Linked DNA regions of Homo sapiens: region 2 is linked to region 1. Evidence: fine-mapped expression QTL. Tissue or cell type: whole blood. Region 1 holds a variant in brackets; the other region holds the start of a gene. All regions are shown on one strand. Distances are from middle to middle.

Region 1 (8,106 bases):
ACCTATGTGACTTCCTCTGAGCCCCAAGTATGACGAATTGCCTTGAGGCTGCCAAAGAGTCACAGGCCCCCACCTGCCAGTCACAGCCAGTCATCAAGAGTCTTATAAAGGGGGTCATTGAGTTACATCCTATGGTTCCTCTGGTACCTCAACTAGTTAAGAAGGGCAGAGGCCTAGAAGTGCAGAGTCCAGGAACCTAAGAATGCCTTGTTTCACATAATATCATTTCATTTTTATACTAAATCTACTCTTAAAGGTTTTAAGTCATGCCTCTTAGTTGTGATGAAAGAAGAAAAGGTGATTTTTATGCCCAGGTATCAGCTGCCTATCTAAAGATTTCAAGCACACTCTTCTCAAGCTTGTTTTTTGCATCCTGAATAGTCCTTGCTGTGGTAACCATTTACCTGAAAACTTGTCCTTCGATAGGACCCTTCCCTCTGTTCCACCATGCTAACACCAGGGAATGGGCTAAAAGGATAAGGAGGCGCTGAACCCAGAGTCACCATGGCCATGTCCAAAGACTCTGACAGCAGCTGGGATGGAAGATGAGGTGGAGGTGGGAATAAGCTGGAACACTACTTTGCACCCTCAGGGGGCACCATTTACACCATATTCCTGTACTGGGCAGCCCTCGTGTGAGCCCATCTTTCTACTTCCTGCTTTCCAGTTGCTATCTCCCTACCTTGAGTTTTATTCTTTTGATTTTTTAGAGGCAAAATTGCAAGGTAAGGAAAATATATTAATGTGCAAATTTTTTTCAAATATAGTCTTTTGGGAAGTGTAGTGGGTGAGACTCAGATTTACACTAAGGAATGGCAACGTTTGCCATTGAAGACCCTATCCCAGCCTCCATGATGCACAAGTAATCATCATGACATGATTTGGTGCTGACTCAGGGAAGGAAGAACCATTGATCCTAACATCTCTCTGCATCACCTGAGTATTGATTCCTGTGTACAACTTGCATTGTACTGGGTTAGTCTCTCCCCATTAACATTTACAGAATGTGATTTATGTACCTCAGAGAGTCTGATCCATCTTACTTTATATGACTAAGTCAAAAGAAAAGTTCAGAGGCTATTCTTAGCATTTAAAAAAGTAAAAGACAGCTGTTCCACATATGCACCATCCCAGTCAAATGACAATATACAGAGTACACATAGACTGAGGGGATGATAAGCACACGCATAGTCAGGGTGAGCTCAGTAGAATGGTGAGGGGTTGCGCCAGTAAGAATTGCATTCACCTGGCCAGGCGCGGTGGCTCACGCCTGTAATCCCAGCACTTTGGGAGGCCAAGGCAGGTGGATCACCTGAGGTCAGGAGTTCAAGACCAGCCTGACCAACATGGAGAAAGCCTGTCTCTACTAAAAATACAAAATTAGTCGCGTGTGGTGGCGCATGCCTGTAATCCCAGCTACTCAGGAGGCTGAGGCAGGAGAATCGCTTGAACCCAGGAGGCGGAGGTTGCAGTGAGCCGAGATCATGCCATTGTACTCCAGCCTGGGCAACAAGGGTGAAACTCCATCTCAAAAAAAAAAAAAAAAAAACAAAAAACAAAAGAAAACAGAATTGCATTCACCTGTAGTGTCAGAGATCCAAATACAGTGGCTTAAGCAGAACTAGGGGGGCTCATCTTCTTCCATAAAAGAAGTCAAGATAGAAGGCCCAGGAAGTGGTTTTGTTGCCCCATAAAGTTATCAAGATCTCAGATCCCCTCCAACTTATGGACCAACCATTCTTATTAAGTGGCTTCCATTCTCAAAGTCACAAGATGAATGATGAAATCTCACCAACCTAACTGTTTTCAAAACTAAAGGGGCCAGTAGGGGAGGGAAAATGGAAAGACTAAGGTCAAAAGATTAGACCCCAGAATTTTGTCTCACTTCAAGGAACACCCTCAGAAATCCCACCCAAACCCGTCTGTTTAAATCTCATTAGCTAGAACTTAATCATATAACAAAATGTTATAAGAATGCAAGGGAGGCTAGGAAATGTTGTCTCTTAGCTGTGCATAAAGTACAACCAGGGTTTATTTCTAGGAAGAATAGAAAAACAGATATTGAGTGGCCAAAGAGTGGGTGATGTCATAGCATTGTATAATCTGTGTGAAGTCAATGCAGTGGGCCATGTGATCTCAGCTGAGCTCAGTGCAAAGTGGATATGAAATCACTAAGATGGTGAAGGGTGTGAGCTTAGCAGAAGAGAAATGTACAGAGCCAACTGTGAGAGTGACAATGTGGTGTGTGATGTATAACCTATGGGGGCTCAATGGGAAGGTGAGGCTGTGCACAGTCAGTCTGGGTTCCTGGGATCATTCAAGTGTAAAGCAGAGTCATGCAGGGTCAATGAGATCGTGAAAAGTGTGCACAACCAGTATGGTCTGAATGAGTCGGTGAGGGGTGTGCACAGCTGGTGTGAATTCAGAGGGCAAATTAGGTCTGCTTGGCCTGTAGAAATGCACGTTCATTAAAGCCTTTATTTCTCTTGCAGCTCTTTGAGAGCATCCTTTCATAATAACTACTCAGTAAGATCAGGGAAACTTGGAAATATCCTGTGGTCATATAGAGAGGCCATGCCCACCCCTCCATCTAGATAAGTGGTTTGTAATTAGGGCCTGCCTTCATGGGGCAGATGATACAGGTACAGATACAAGTATAGGTGGTTCCTCTTGTCAGTTCCAACCAGGCGCCACTTTGCTGCTGTCCTTCTATGGCCAAGTTTCCTCCGGTTAGCAGGCTTCATACATCACAACAGGCAGGTTTATACACCTTAACCCAAAGCCAGTACTGCTAACAAATTACCTTGACATGTTGATTGCTTGCCTTAACTCACCCTGGAGGCCTCCAGAGGCCTTCTTCACATCACCACAAACACTTCCAATTAGTGCATTGGTTTATCAGGAACTCTTTTCTTGGTGCTCTATTCTGCTCTCCATGACCTTGGTTGCCTGAGTGATACATCCTTTAATTTGTTCCTACATCTTGCTTGGATTTTCCCCTGCTCATCTCTGTCTCTGCTTATACAGGATGTGTTTTATTGCCACACAGACTTAGCTGGTAGCCTCTGTGGCATCATCCAACACTGATGTCCCTCAGTCAACTCTAGAACACCCATAGGTGGCCTCTGTAAGAGACGTTTCCAGGAACAGAATGCCAAACATACTGTTTATCAGAGTTCTTGAGTTGCACAATGGGAGGAA[A/G]TTGTTGCTTAGGATTTCAAAGGACACCAGAGAATTTCAACACACACCTGGAATGGTGCCCTGTTGCTTGTCCAGTCAATGCCAAGTTAATGATGGGAAGGAATAGCTGGTGTGTCACGTGATTGCCAAGCACTGTCGCAAATCCTTCCTGAGGTCAACACTCCCAACCCCGCCAAACTCTACAGCTCACAAATCAGCTGCAAGTGGAGCATAAAAAATGCAACATTGTGGAATTAACTACTTATGGGCCACACCTGAAATTGCCTGATTTTGGTTAAAGAAGTGGTTACAACACGCCCTTAAAATCATCATGAGCTTCTAAGAGATGACAATGACTCATAGATTTATCTGTCATGATCAGTTAAAATTCTAGACATAAACTCAACCTGAATTCTTAAGATCAATGGTTCGAAAGAACTGACATTTGAGAATCCATCCCATTTTACTTTGTAGATGCATTGATACATTTGTGGAAAATGACAAGAAATTAATCTTGAGCTCCTTTGCCCAAGAGGTTACCCATAGTTGTATACTCTCAACATACCTGCAAGACAACATGCCAGAGCTATGCCAGGATCTGATATTATTGAGTCTGGTTTTCCCAAATGAAGATCTTGATTTGGATTAGTTATCTTGAATGTGGAAATTCTCCTTCCTTTAATAATATCCTATTGAAGTAAGTTAGGATTTCACACAGGTAAAGTTACTACAGCTTTAGTAACTTTACCTACCACAATTTTAGTAACTTTACCTGTGTGAAAAACTGACTTTTGTTCACTTTTGGAATAAAGAAGGAGCAGCAGAAATTATTACCCATGAATCCTATATAAAAGATCCTGTGTCACAGAAATGTGTCTGGTCTTCTTCGGAAAGGTAGACCGACCCCAATTTCAGGACACCGCAGGAATTCAATATAAATTTGAAACTCTATGTTACAATTTACAGAGGTGTAGCTAACTCAACAACTGGAAAGAATAACAATTACTGCCTCTTGTTTACAAAATTTTTTTCTGTTCAAGACTTCTTCGAACTCTTATTACATAAAGTCAACTCCATGATCAGAAAGGCCATGAGAATTGTGCCAAATGCTAGATGAAGATGTGACTTTCTCAACCCCTTCACCAGTCCTCTTGTTTACCTGGTTGCCCAATGAGATCGAGTCTCTCTATTGGATCAAGACTGGTGTTGACAAAGAGTCCCAGAGCCAAGGTGGGAAGCCAGGTAGAAAAATACAACAAGTCTAAGAATTACAGGCAGGACTGGGAACGGGAAAAGTCAAAAAGGCTCCGAGCCAAATGAGAAGTCAGAAATCACATGCATATCAGGAGTCCAGGTTAAGTGTGTAGGTTAAAAATCAAGCCAGCAGTTAGAAACCAGGAAACCCACAGGCACCAGGGAGCAATGCAAGTCCAAGGGTCAGAAAACAAATAAAAGGCCAAGACAGCCAATTAAAAAGCACCATCATGATGAACTTCACGAAAGTCCCTGCTGTTTCAGGGAAGAAGGCTCTTCCTTCATTTCTGTGGGAGATGTGACCATGCGAGGTTGTGCAGGTAGAAGCCGGGGATCCATGTTAAAAGAGTGGAGTCAAATGAGAGAGGCGCTGTGTCTGGAATCATGCTGAAAGACGCATCATGATACCTCTACACAGTGCAGTAATTAGCCACCTATGTCACATCAGGATTTCAGGGCTCACTGGCCAAGAACAGCCACATCCCTGTCAGTACCATTTTTCCACCTCCTGGCACCCTTTCCCTTCTGGTTCCCAAACCCAAAAAAATTCATACTGCCCAACGGTGATCCAAATCCTTCCTGGGAGGCACAGTGCTCAGACTTTCCCATTTCCTAAAGCCTTCCAAGTGAAACAAAGAAAAAAATAATGCTTTTTTTTTTCAATTTGGACAGCATATCACAGATGCTAAGAGGAAGCAAGTGTATCAAACTCTGAATTTAAATGATAAATATCCTTAGCTATTGTAAAGGTATTTGAATTTGAAGGAAAGAACTAATTAATACAAAAGTGCCTCTAGAACTCTGCGCCGGCGTGTTGGAGGAATAAGGGTTAAAAACAAAACATCTCTCTTTAAAAAAAAAAATTACTTAAGCATACAACTTGAATTATAGTTGTAAAAAAAATGTTGGTTTTCCTTCATGTTGAAACGTACTTATTAATCAAGACTTCTAAAGACTCTGTTTAAAGGTGATAACTGATTCATCTCCCTTATCTCCCTTTTTAATCAGGTGTAGTTCTAGGAATAAATGCAGACAATTTGAATTTTAATGACTTCCAACAAGTGATATTTGACCACATAAAAAATTCAAATATTTCTGTTTTCTAGGACAAAAGATAAATTATTGCAGAGGCCACGCTGCACAACAAAAACAGCACGGGCTCAAAATTGTCTTGGCAAGTCCCTCCTCATCACCGGTCCCAGTATCCTCACAGAGATAAAAATACAGACTTTGCAGGGCCAGGCGCGGTGGCTCATGCCTGTAATCCCAGCACTTTGGGAAGCCAAGGCGGGCAGATCACTTGACGTCAGGAATTCGAAACCAGCCTGGCCAACATGGTGAAACCCCATCTCTACTAAAAGTACAAAAAAAAAAAATTAGCTGGGCATGGTGGGGGGCGCCTGTAATCTCAGCTACTTGGGAGGCTGAGGCAGGAGAATAGCTTGAACCCAGGAGATGGAGGTTACAGTGAGCCAAGATCATGCCACTGCACTCCAGTGAGACTCTGTCTGTCTCTCTCTCTCTCTCTATATATATATATACACACATTGTACATATACATATACTATATATATTATACATTGTATATATTGTATATATGTATACAATGTATATATGTATATATACATATATATGTATATGTATGTATATATTGTGTATATATACAATGTATATATATGTGTATATGTATACAATGTGTATATATGTATACAGTATATGTATATATACATTGTATATATTGTATATATGTATACAATGTATATATTATACAATGTATATATATACACATTGAGAGAGAGAGACTTTGCAGAGTTCTTGCGAAGATGAAAAATTATGCATGATAAGTATCTAGCACACTGTAGCACATCATAGGTGTTCAATGAATAGTAGCAACTGTTACTTTTATTCCACTTACCTAACAAATGCCCAATCACTTTATGTTGTAAACACACTTCTATCTAATCAAAAGAGAGAGTAAAGCAGGAAGAGCATCTAGGTGCAGTGGCAGAAATTCCAGTGTAAGAGTAGAAAACTGGGTAATGATCCCATTTTCATCGCCAGTTAGTTGTGTGTCTTTGCAAGTCACCTAACTTCACTCAACCTCAGCTTCCTCATTTGAAAAAAAAATGAAAGATTTGAACATATAACTTTAGTCACTCCCAGATGTGAGGGTCTCTGCCACTGATTACCTTCCCTAGCAGAGAGAAGACTGGTAAAAGATTGTCCCTGTGTGGGGACAGCCTATCCCTAGATGATCAGATGTTTGCCCAACGCAGCTCTGAACTCACCCTTACACCTACAGTTCCCAATCCTGCCTCTCATCTTTGGACCTTGCTCAAGAGCACAAATGAATTTCTACTCCTAAGACCAGACATAAACACTAATCACTAATACATGCTCATCCAAAGATCTAGGATAATTTGCTTTAGTTACCTGTGCCTCAGTTTTCTCCTCCGTAAAAGTAGGAGAGCAATATTCACCTCAATGAATTTTTATGAAGATTAGATAAGACATGTTTGTGAAAGTAAGTTATCGCCTGTACAGCATTGTACAACACTAACATAGCAACTATGATTATTGTTGATTTACACTGTTGGAAACACTCTATGGAAAACAGAAGAGAAGTTGCATTGAGTCGGGACACCATGGTTCATCCGTCTGAGCTCCTGCCTTCTGTGGGTTTTCTAAGCATAGAAGAATCAGGCAGAATGGCATTGAATTCTGCTGTAATCAGATATTGATTTTCTTCCTAACTGAGAAAGGAGGATTATTTAAACTTTCATTTATAGGAAACTGGCAGGAACCTGTTTAAATGGCCCAAGTAAGTTTTCACCTCTTTAGCAATATCCTACCCATGTGATCAGAGGTTTCCCTATTTCAAGAGGTAATTGCAGAATTTCAGGAAAGCCACCTATTACTAATTGTAACAAATCCATCAATCTCTACAAAGAACAACAGACCTGTCCCTCCAGAGCCCCACTCTTAGGCTTTGCTGGGCTTACTGCTCCATGGATCACCAGGCTCCTGTGGTCACAAGGAGGCTGTAAGAAATGCAAGGCCATCTAAGAGGAAGTTGAGCATGCTGCTGTGTTCCTCAGGGATGTCCTGAAATGCCCCCTGTTTGCAGTGTTGTGAAATGTTGTAGATTCTCTTCCAGAATTTTCTCCTCCATACCAAAGTCTAAAAACTATTTGTTGATAAAGGTTTTAGGCAATTACTTCAGAACATAGCTCCATGTGTTGGGTTTTCTGAGCAGTCAGCTATGTAGAAGCTTCAGTTAGCATTCTTTCTCTCTCTCTCTCTCTCTATCTCTCTCTCTCTCTCTCTCTCTCATCCTTCCCATCCACATTTGCAGGTAGCATGCCCTTGGCAGCGTTGATCCCATAAACAGAATAGTAAGCAACTACTTGCCTGGTGTAATTTGAGATGTGGCACAATCCCCCTGCTCAAAATATCATCCCCACCAAATGCCACAGGGCCTAAAATTCCCAGTATTCAACTCACGGCAGCTAATCTTCTCTTGCTTCACCCCATCATCTCTCCTAATACCTGCACGTGTGAAGCATGTCCATCCTTCCGGGCCTAACTCAACATCACTTTTTCCTGAAGCTTTTGTGATTGCCCAGTTGGAAGTGATCTCTCATTCCTCTGAACATTCAAAAAGCTTCACTT
Region 2 (8,106 bases), 29 kb after region 1:
GTATCTTTATAAAAGAATGACTTGTATTCCTTTGGGTATATACCCAGTAATGGGATTGCTGGGTCTGCTGAGCTTTTCATTGGACAGTAGACAAAATGGAAAGAAAAATCCCTCTCTTCATAAGACATTTCTGGTAGTTCCAATTCAAGCTTATCTTTCCCCCACTGACTTCTTTTGCACTTGTTTTTACTGCACAATTAGCTTTTTAATATGTATTATCTGATTGTCTTTGATGAGCAATTTAGTACTTTATTATATGTCCTGAGAATAATTACATCAGAGTCTAAATCCCCCGCAAGGATGTTGTAAATTCCTTGAAGTCAGGGAAATTTCTTAAGCTTACTACTCAGCCCACCATCAGTGTCAATAGATTGTTCTCCAGGAACACGGCCCCTCCAAAGCACTCAAATACACAAGCCATCACACACATGCACACTACAAGAGCAGTGCTCTATAAAGAACAAGCTTTATTTGTCCCATTTCACAAAAATAGTAATTAGACATAGCCAAGATCATACTGACACAGCCATTCTTTATTTAAAAGCACAGTCAAGTAAAAAATACACTTCAAAGAGATACTACCCAATACTCAACACAGTCCTCAAACTTGTGCATTTAAAAAGAATTACAAATACACATTGCCACATGGTCCGACAGACTCACATTCACTCCTAGAAATGTACCTTCACGGTCTTGCCAATGCATTCTTCTTATTAATTTCCCATTCATTTGTTTACTTAACATTTTGAGCCCTGTGGCTCAGGCTCCATATTAGATGTGTGGAATTCAAAAACGGAACAACGCATTCTTGCCTCCTCTGCAAACAAGTATCCTCAATCCAATGACATTACTATACTGAGAAGACATATTTATACAAGGTGAGATGGGAGAAAAAAAAAAAGCCTAAATCTTCCTGAGGGTCAGGTAACTCTGTACAGAGGAGAGAATAAAAGAAGGTCAGTATCATGTATGTGGGCAGACAAGAAGGTGGTTAGTTGCAGAAGTCCTGTTAATTGCAGAAGTCTGAGCCAGGAAACCATCAGAGAGGGTTTTTCCTTACAGTTTGAGGCCCCTTGGGCCCAAGACAAAACATCATATGGCACCCTTGACATATGGCACCCTTGACAAAGCTTAAGGCAGGGACCCTGGGCCCTTTCCACTCTGGGTCTGCTGGAAGGGAAGGGCAGAGCTTCCTAAAAAGGGAGCCAACTGGCCTCTCCACATGGAGGCCCTAATGGTTTGATGGATGCACTGCTAGCCCTGCAGAAACCCACAAGAGGGAGAGAATCATTGGTAGGGGACTCAGGGAAGAGGAAGATCTCGGTCTCCCAAAAAAATTTTCTCTTTCTGGAGAATATGGGCTTCGAGCTGGATATCAAGGAGGCAAAGAAGGAGCACATAGGAGGGTAGGGAGTGAAGTGGAAACTTCCCTGGTGAGTAGGGGAAGCAAAGAAAGGAGAACAAGGCAAAGGGACTAAGAAAAGATTAACTTACAAGAACAAATGCTAGAGTCTTGTCTCCAGAGGTAGTGCAACCAGAAATCCTGAAGAGCAGTTGAATTGAGAAGAGAAGTGGGAGGTCAGGGGGTTGGGGGAAGAGGTGACTGGTGGCTGAGAGGCCATGGCTGGGAAAGAGAGAAAGGAATAAACTGGGGAGGGCTGGTAACCTTGATAGGAATTTATGTAGGAAATGAGAGTGCAAACAGGAAGGGCTTAATGAGGGCTGTGATTGTCTGGAAGGAGAAAAAGGGGAGATTTGGCACCTCCTGGAACCTGGGGAAAGTAATTGTCTGGGTAAATGGTAAGTGTATTTCCCACAGGGTCAGAGCAGGCTTTGATCTTTAGGAGAAGACAAATTGCTTTCCATCTTGCTGAAGCCAAAGGCTTAAATGGTCAGACGTGTGTCATAGGTGGGTGCAAAGGGAAGGAAATATAATACATCCTCATGGCCAAGTGCCCTGGGCTTGGATCACTGTGTCCTTGGCCAAGTTAACCAACTTCTTTAAGCTTCCAATGATTCATGTACAAAAAAAGATACAAAAATACCTTTCACATGTGGTTCTTCCAGAAAGCGCTTGGCACAGGGCCTGGTACATAAACAAATTCAATAAGGGTTAACTATTTTCATAATTACAGTTAGTCTGCATCGCTAGAAGCACATTATTCAAATGAGGATATGGACTGGTCAGATGACAGTGGAAACGGTGTTCAGATCTAGGGGCCCCCACCTAGTAAGAACAACACTAATCAACTCTAGCCTGCCCAGGGGACAGTGACCCAGAGAACTAGGAAACCTTGAAAAATGAAGAAATATGAAATACTAATAAAAATTAAGAAAACCCACAAGCGTTTAACCCAGATAATATTTGGGGACATGAGGGGGTTATGTGAAGAGAAAACAATGTTCCATTTAACTTTAGGAAATGGCGATATTATTAAAGATTTTGGAGGCATTAGTCATCATCCTTTGGTCAAGTTTATTAACCTCTCCAGTGCCTCTGTTTTTTCATCCATAAAATGGGATTCACTAGATCACCTATCTTATAAGATTACTGTGGCAATTAAATGAGTCAGTATGTGCTAAGTGCTTAGAAGACTATCTAGCACATAATAAATGCTCAATAAGTCCTGAGGAGCAACTGGATTGACAGGAGAAGTTGGTGCTGGTTATTATTATTACTATAATTATTACCCTGGGTAAGTTTTTAATAGTTCCAGCAATGAAAAAATGAGAATAGCCTCCTTGCAGCAGTAATTCCCTCTTACTGGAACAGTTCAAAAAGTCGCTGATAACGACCAGTCAATCATTAGAGAGGAGACTCCTCGTCCTGGGAGAAAGCCGATTTGTCATCTCTTAAACCCCAGGGCATCCAGCGTGAAGGAGGTAGAACTAGGCCGGCCCGCGAGGAGGCAGGGGCAGGCGCCAGTGACGCAATGACTGCAACATGCCGCCAGGGTGCAGCAGAGCCCGACCCCGGGTTGTTCCATCCGCAGCAAACAATTCCTAACTCGCTCCAGGTCTTCCTTCTTAGCTGAGTGGGTTGAACCCCGTGGAAGTAACCCCCCGCCCATTATGATGATCCAGCCAATCACCGCGTGATCTGCTCGGACGGGGCGGGATCGCGGCGCTTCCCTCGGTCGCTCAGAGACTGGGTTCCGCGTTCCAGCCCCGCCCCAGGTTCTGGGCCAATCCCCGCGGCTGGGCAGAGCGACCCGAGGGCGGCGCCCTGCAGACCACGTGGCCCGGGAGGCGCCGAGGCCAGGTAGGTGGTGAGTTACTTGGCTCGGAGCGGGCGAGGGGACGCGTGGGCGGAGCGGGGCTGGCCAGCCTCGGCCCCCATGACCCGCTGTCCTGTGCCCTTTCCCAGCGATGGGCGTGCAGCCCCCCAACTTCTCCTGGGTGCTTCCGGGCCGGCTGGCGGGACTGGCGCTGCCGCGGCTCCCCGCCCACTACCAGTTCCTGTTGGACCTGGGCGTGCGGCACCTGGTGTCCCTGACGGAGCGCGGGCCCCCTCACAGCGACAGCTGCCCCGGCCTCACCCTGCACCGCCTGCGCATCCCCGACTTCTGCCCGCCGGCCCCCGACCAGATCGACCGCTTCGTGCAGATCGTGGACGAGGCCAACGCACGGGGAGAGGTCAGCGGGCGGGGTCAGCGCAGGGAGGGAGGGGCCTGGAAGGTCAGCGGGGGACACGGGCGGAGCTGGGGAGACCGGGCCTGGGATAACTTAACTGGGCTCGGGGAGGCAGACAGTAGGGCCGGGAGACTGGGAAGCCAGTGCGGGGGAGGGAAGCGCTAAACGGAAGGAACTAAAGAGAGGGCGAAGCAGTGCGAACTGGGCTTGAGGAGAGGCAGTGAAAACCAGCTAATACTGTGAGTTGTGAAGGAGAAGGGTGTGGACAGACACCTGGGAGAGGTGGGGGTTGAAGTCAGGTGGAGGCTGTTTACCATTTTCTAGAGTAAAGCTGTCCAAATATAATGGAACCTAAGTGGCTCCATGTAATGTTAATTTTTCTAGCAACGGCATTCTTAAAAAGCAGGGAAGCAGATAAAATTAACTTTGGTGATCTTAATGAGATATTTTCATTCTTTTTTCTACTACCTCTTCATACCCTGTTGCGTTTTTCACACTACATCTCAGTTTGGACTAGCCACATTTCGAGTACAGTAGCCACAGTAGCCGTGGCTACTGTCTTCTGTATTGAACACCACAGGTGGAGGGCTGTGTAGAGGTGGACAGCTCTTGAACCAGCCAGTGCAGAGGCCTCCTAGCCACCTAGTGCAGGGACAGCCCTCCCTGACTTTGCTGCAGAGCCCTGGACCTGGCACAGAAGAAGGAGCTGTGGGGAGAACCAAGTGAGGGGCAGGAAACAGTTGTGGGTGGGGGAGTTGAGTGGCACCCATCGAGCCCCCTCTTCGTAGGCTGTGGGAGTGCACTGTGCTCTGGGCTTTGGCCGCACTGGCACCATGCTGGCCTGTTACCTGGTGAAGGAGCGGGGCTTGGCTGCAGGAGATGCCATTGCTGAAATCCGACGACTACGACCCGGCTCCATCGAGACCTATGAGCAGGAGAAAGCAGTCTTCCAGTTCTACCAGCGAACGAAATAAGGGGCCTTAGTACCCTTCTACCAGGCCCTCACTCCCCTTCCCCATGTTGTCGATGGGGCCAGAGATGAAGGGAAGTGGACTAAAGTATTAAACCCTCTAGCTCCCATTGGCTGAAGACACTGAAGTAGCCCACCCCTGCAGGCAGGTCCTGATTGAAGGGGAGGCTTGTACTGCTTTGTTGAATAAATGAGTTTTACGAACCAGGGCACGTTGCATGGTACTTTATAAAGCATTCCCACACATTAACTTACTTCAGCCTCACTGTAGCCCTGTGATACAGGAAAGACAGATGGGCCATCTCTGTTCTTTGGATGAGGTGGGCAAAGCTCAGAGAGGCCCATCTTCAACACTTCTAGAAAGTGGAAGGATGGGCCAGAACAGCAACACACGTCTTCAATCCCTTGAAGATGCTGAAATGCTATGTATCTGTTCCCTGACAATATTTGATGTGTTTTCTGGGGGAGCTAGTCAATGAAAAGGATTCAGGTCCAGAATAGCCTGGCCTCCTGGCATTCCCAGGTCTCTGATGCTCACAGGCCAGGAGGCCCCTCCGTGTAGGCCCACCTGCTGCACACGTGTCACCCTTGTTTATCTGGGGGTAGAGACAGCCTGGATGTCACACTCACAGATAACCACCATCTCCACCTCCACAGGGCTGGTCACCTCTTACCAACCTCAGGTGCTGCTCAGCTCATCTGGGCTCTCTGGCTCATTCTGCTGCCCCACAACCTCAGGCCAAAGGACCTGAGAACAGAGCCAATCTAGGCAGTTATGCAGAGCAGATATTTAACAATTAAATGAAGAGTTCCAGGGCTCTAAATCTTGGCCATGTTTCTCAGATGTTATCTCCAGTTATCCCCTATTGGACCCCATTCTGCCCCCTTGTTGGGCCCTGTTTTGCCAGCACCACTACACTTTTGACTTATGAGAAATGGGAAGAATGGCATATATCCGCCCAATGGACTCTTTACTGTAGGTCTGCCTGTGGTCTTTTCTGCAATAGCAGGCTGAATAAGATAGAAATTCACCATAAAATATGTGAGTTCCTGTACGTACCTGTATGAGTTCTGTTAGATCTGGAGGCCGCACAGTGGAATGAGACATAATTCCTGCTCTCAGGAGCTCAGCCTGCTGGAGAAGATGGGCACAGATAGAGTCCACCACAGACAATGGATGCTATTGTAGACATGCATTCCAGTTCCAGTGGAGACATAGAAGAGTGGGGAGTCAAGGGTTCCCCTGTAGATCTCATCTTTTGTATCATAGACCAGAGACAGGCCTAGCCAACTGGTCCTCCTTTCTGCTGCTTTCCCCCTTCCACCACTAACCACCCAGTTCATCCCTGTCCAACTCAACCTTAAACAAGAGATATCAGCTGAAGTCTTGCCAATCTAAGGCCATAAGATGCCCTCTCCCCAGTTTAACTTTATTTGTCAAATCTGAGTGATCAGTTCCTTCAAGCTTAGTCTCCACCTAGCCTACTCAAGTGAGGATGTCTCCCAAAGAGAAGAAACCCACACATTCCAGGCATTCCAGCTGCAACAGAGGAATGAGAATGCAAATAGAGGATGCACTGAAACCCTTACCCTCCTGTCACCAAAAGTTCTGTCTACCCTGCTCTCCCCCATCCACCCCTCCCCCAATAGTATGGCCCCATTCTGTTTCTGATGCAAACCAGAACATCTTCCAAAGGGGTGTGTGTGTATTTTCATGTGAAGGGAGTAGGGCATGAAGGGTGTGAATGGGCCACTTCCTGAACCTCTCCCCTCCAGTCGGAGGGCTTACCAGGATGGAGAGAGAGAGAGAGAGGTGTGAGGCATGAAGCTTCCCCAAGTTCGTGTCTCCACTCTGATCCTCACCTGCTAGGCCATACAACCAATCCTTGCCCTTTCTGCCTCTGTTCCTGTGTCACTCCATCCTCCCCACATCTCTGCACTGTGGAAGAGGAATATGCCCTTCCCTTCCTCCCAAGGCTCCTGCAAGGGAAACAAAATTTTGCTAACCCCATTAAAGCCCTGTGTACTGCCTCCATCCCCATAATTTAAGCAAGTCTCCTCTGCCTCAAGAGTTCCTTAGGGAAATACACGTATAATTAAGTGCTTAAGGAAACTGCTTTTTAAATAATAAGAGTTGGCTTGAAATGAAAAACTCTGCCCTTATCCTTCCATCTACCTGGTGGGTTAGCCTGTGGCTTCCTTTGGGCTCGTTTCCACTCCCAGTTGTTTTTGTCTTCTCACCAAGCCCTCTTATGTCTATGGCTACCAATAAGGGGTAACAGACGAGCCATGTCCCTTCCCTTTCTACGCTGAGATAGATGATCTGTGCCACCATCTAAAAAGAACATTCGCCTCAAACCAGGATATCTCAACGATTGGCGTTTGAAAGTGGGTGATTCTTTGTTGTTGGGGCTGTCTGTGCATTGTTGGATCTTTAGCAGTTTGCCCGGCCTCTATTCACTAGATGCCAGTAGGATACCCCTCCTCCCCCCAGTTGTGACAACAAAAATGTCTCTAGACATTGCCAAATGTTCCCTGGGGGAGCAAAATCAGCCTCAGCTGAGAACTGCATGAGACCAACAAGCACTGGATGCAGTCATTGGCTTTCATTTCCTCTGGGAGTGGAGGTGGGAACATACTTGGTAATGTCTCCTGTGGATGCACACATCTTAATGGGACAGAAAGGACCAACTCAAACCTCCTACCTTTTCAAGCAATGTCTGGTAGCCATCCCTGGTCCGTCAGCCTTTTTCCTGGCTGGTTTCCCAAGACAGTGATAGACACCGCTAACTTTCCATATTCAGGAGACTTTGATTCTCAATGAGCTGCTGATGGGCACAGCTGCAGTAACATCTACTCCCACCCCCATTTTTTTTTACGTTTAATTCATGTTTATTCTCTGGTACGTGATCAGAGTTCTCTGGTGAACGGAGGCTTCTCTATCTGGAAAACATTCCTTCATATCATTGGGGCTCTGCAGTAGTCACCTCTTGGGTTCCCCTTTCAGAAAATTATCCAGTTGCAGAAACAACTGGAAGCAAGTCAGAAGGAGCACCAGCCTTAAACCTTAACCTTAACAAGCACCTTCTCTGAGAAGATTCCTCCTCATCCTTCCCTGACTGGGGCCCTTTTGCTCTCTGGGTTCTGGATTCCATGACTGCTTCATAAGCCATGTATCCCAACATAGGTGTCCTGCTCTAGAGAGGACTGGAGTGGGGAAATAGGCCACTGAGGCCTATTTCCTGCATACACTGCATACACTGAGGCTGGCACACACCTCCCTTGGAGCCATACTTGGTCATCACCCTTACATCCTGACCCATTCATAACACCTGGGGCTCCTGTCCACAGGAGGCTCATCACTGCTCTTCCTCTGGCTGAGGAGGTCCCACCTGCCCCGCATTATCCCCAAGACCTAGTCTTCCCGGGGCAATGGTGAGCACATTACCTGGGGCAGAGATTTGATCTAAACCATAAACCATTTCCCAGAATGAACTGCACCC

The links. PIP is the estimated chance that this variant, and not a neighbour inherited with it, causes the effect.
Region 2: it holds the start of DUSP23, and the variant in region 1 is fine-mapped to the expression of DUSP23 in whole blood (TOPMed, PIP above 0.99).

The regions. Positions count from the first base shown.
Region 1 is chr1:159,749,103-159,757,208 of GRCh38, forward strand. No RefSeq gene overlaps it. Among named protein-coding and RNA genes, the nearest start is that of DUSP23, 28 kb to the right of the region's middle. The variant A/G (reference allele first, on the strand shown) is at 3,202.
Region 2 is chr1:159,777,732-159,785,837 of GRCh38, forward strand. It overlaps DUSP23 (dual specificity phosphatase 23), which reads left to right and starts at 3,231. Exons shown (of 2, transcript NM_001319658.2): 1 at 3,231-3,636; 2 at 4,422-4,812. The coding sequence starts at 3,370. The coding sequence ends at 4,607. LOC101928264 (a long non-coding RNA gene) reads right to left here and starts at 1,650. Exons shown (of 3, transcript XR_922193.3): 1 at 1,495-1,650; 2 at 684-930. RefSeq lists a silencer at 3,166-3,555 and an enhancer at 3,547-4,123.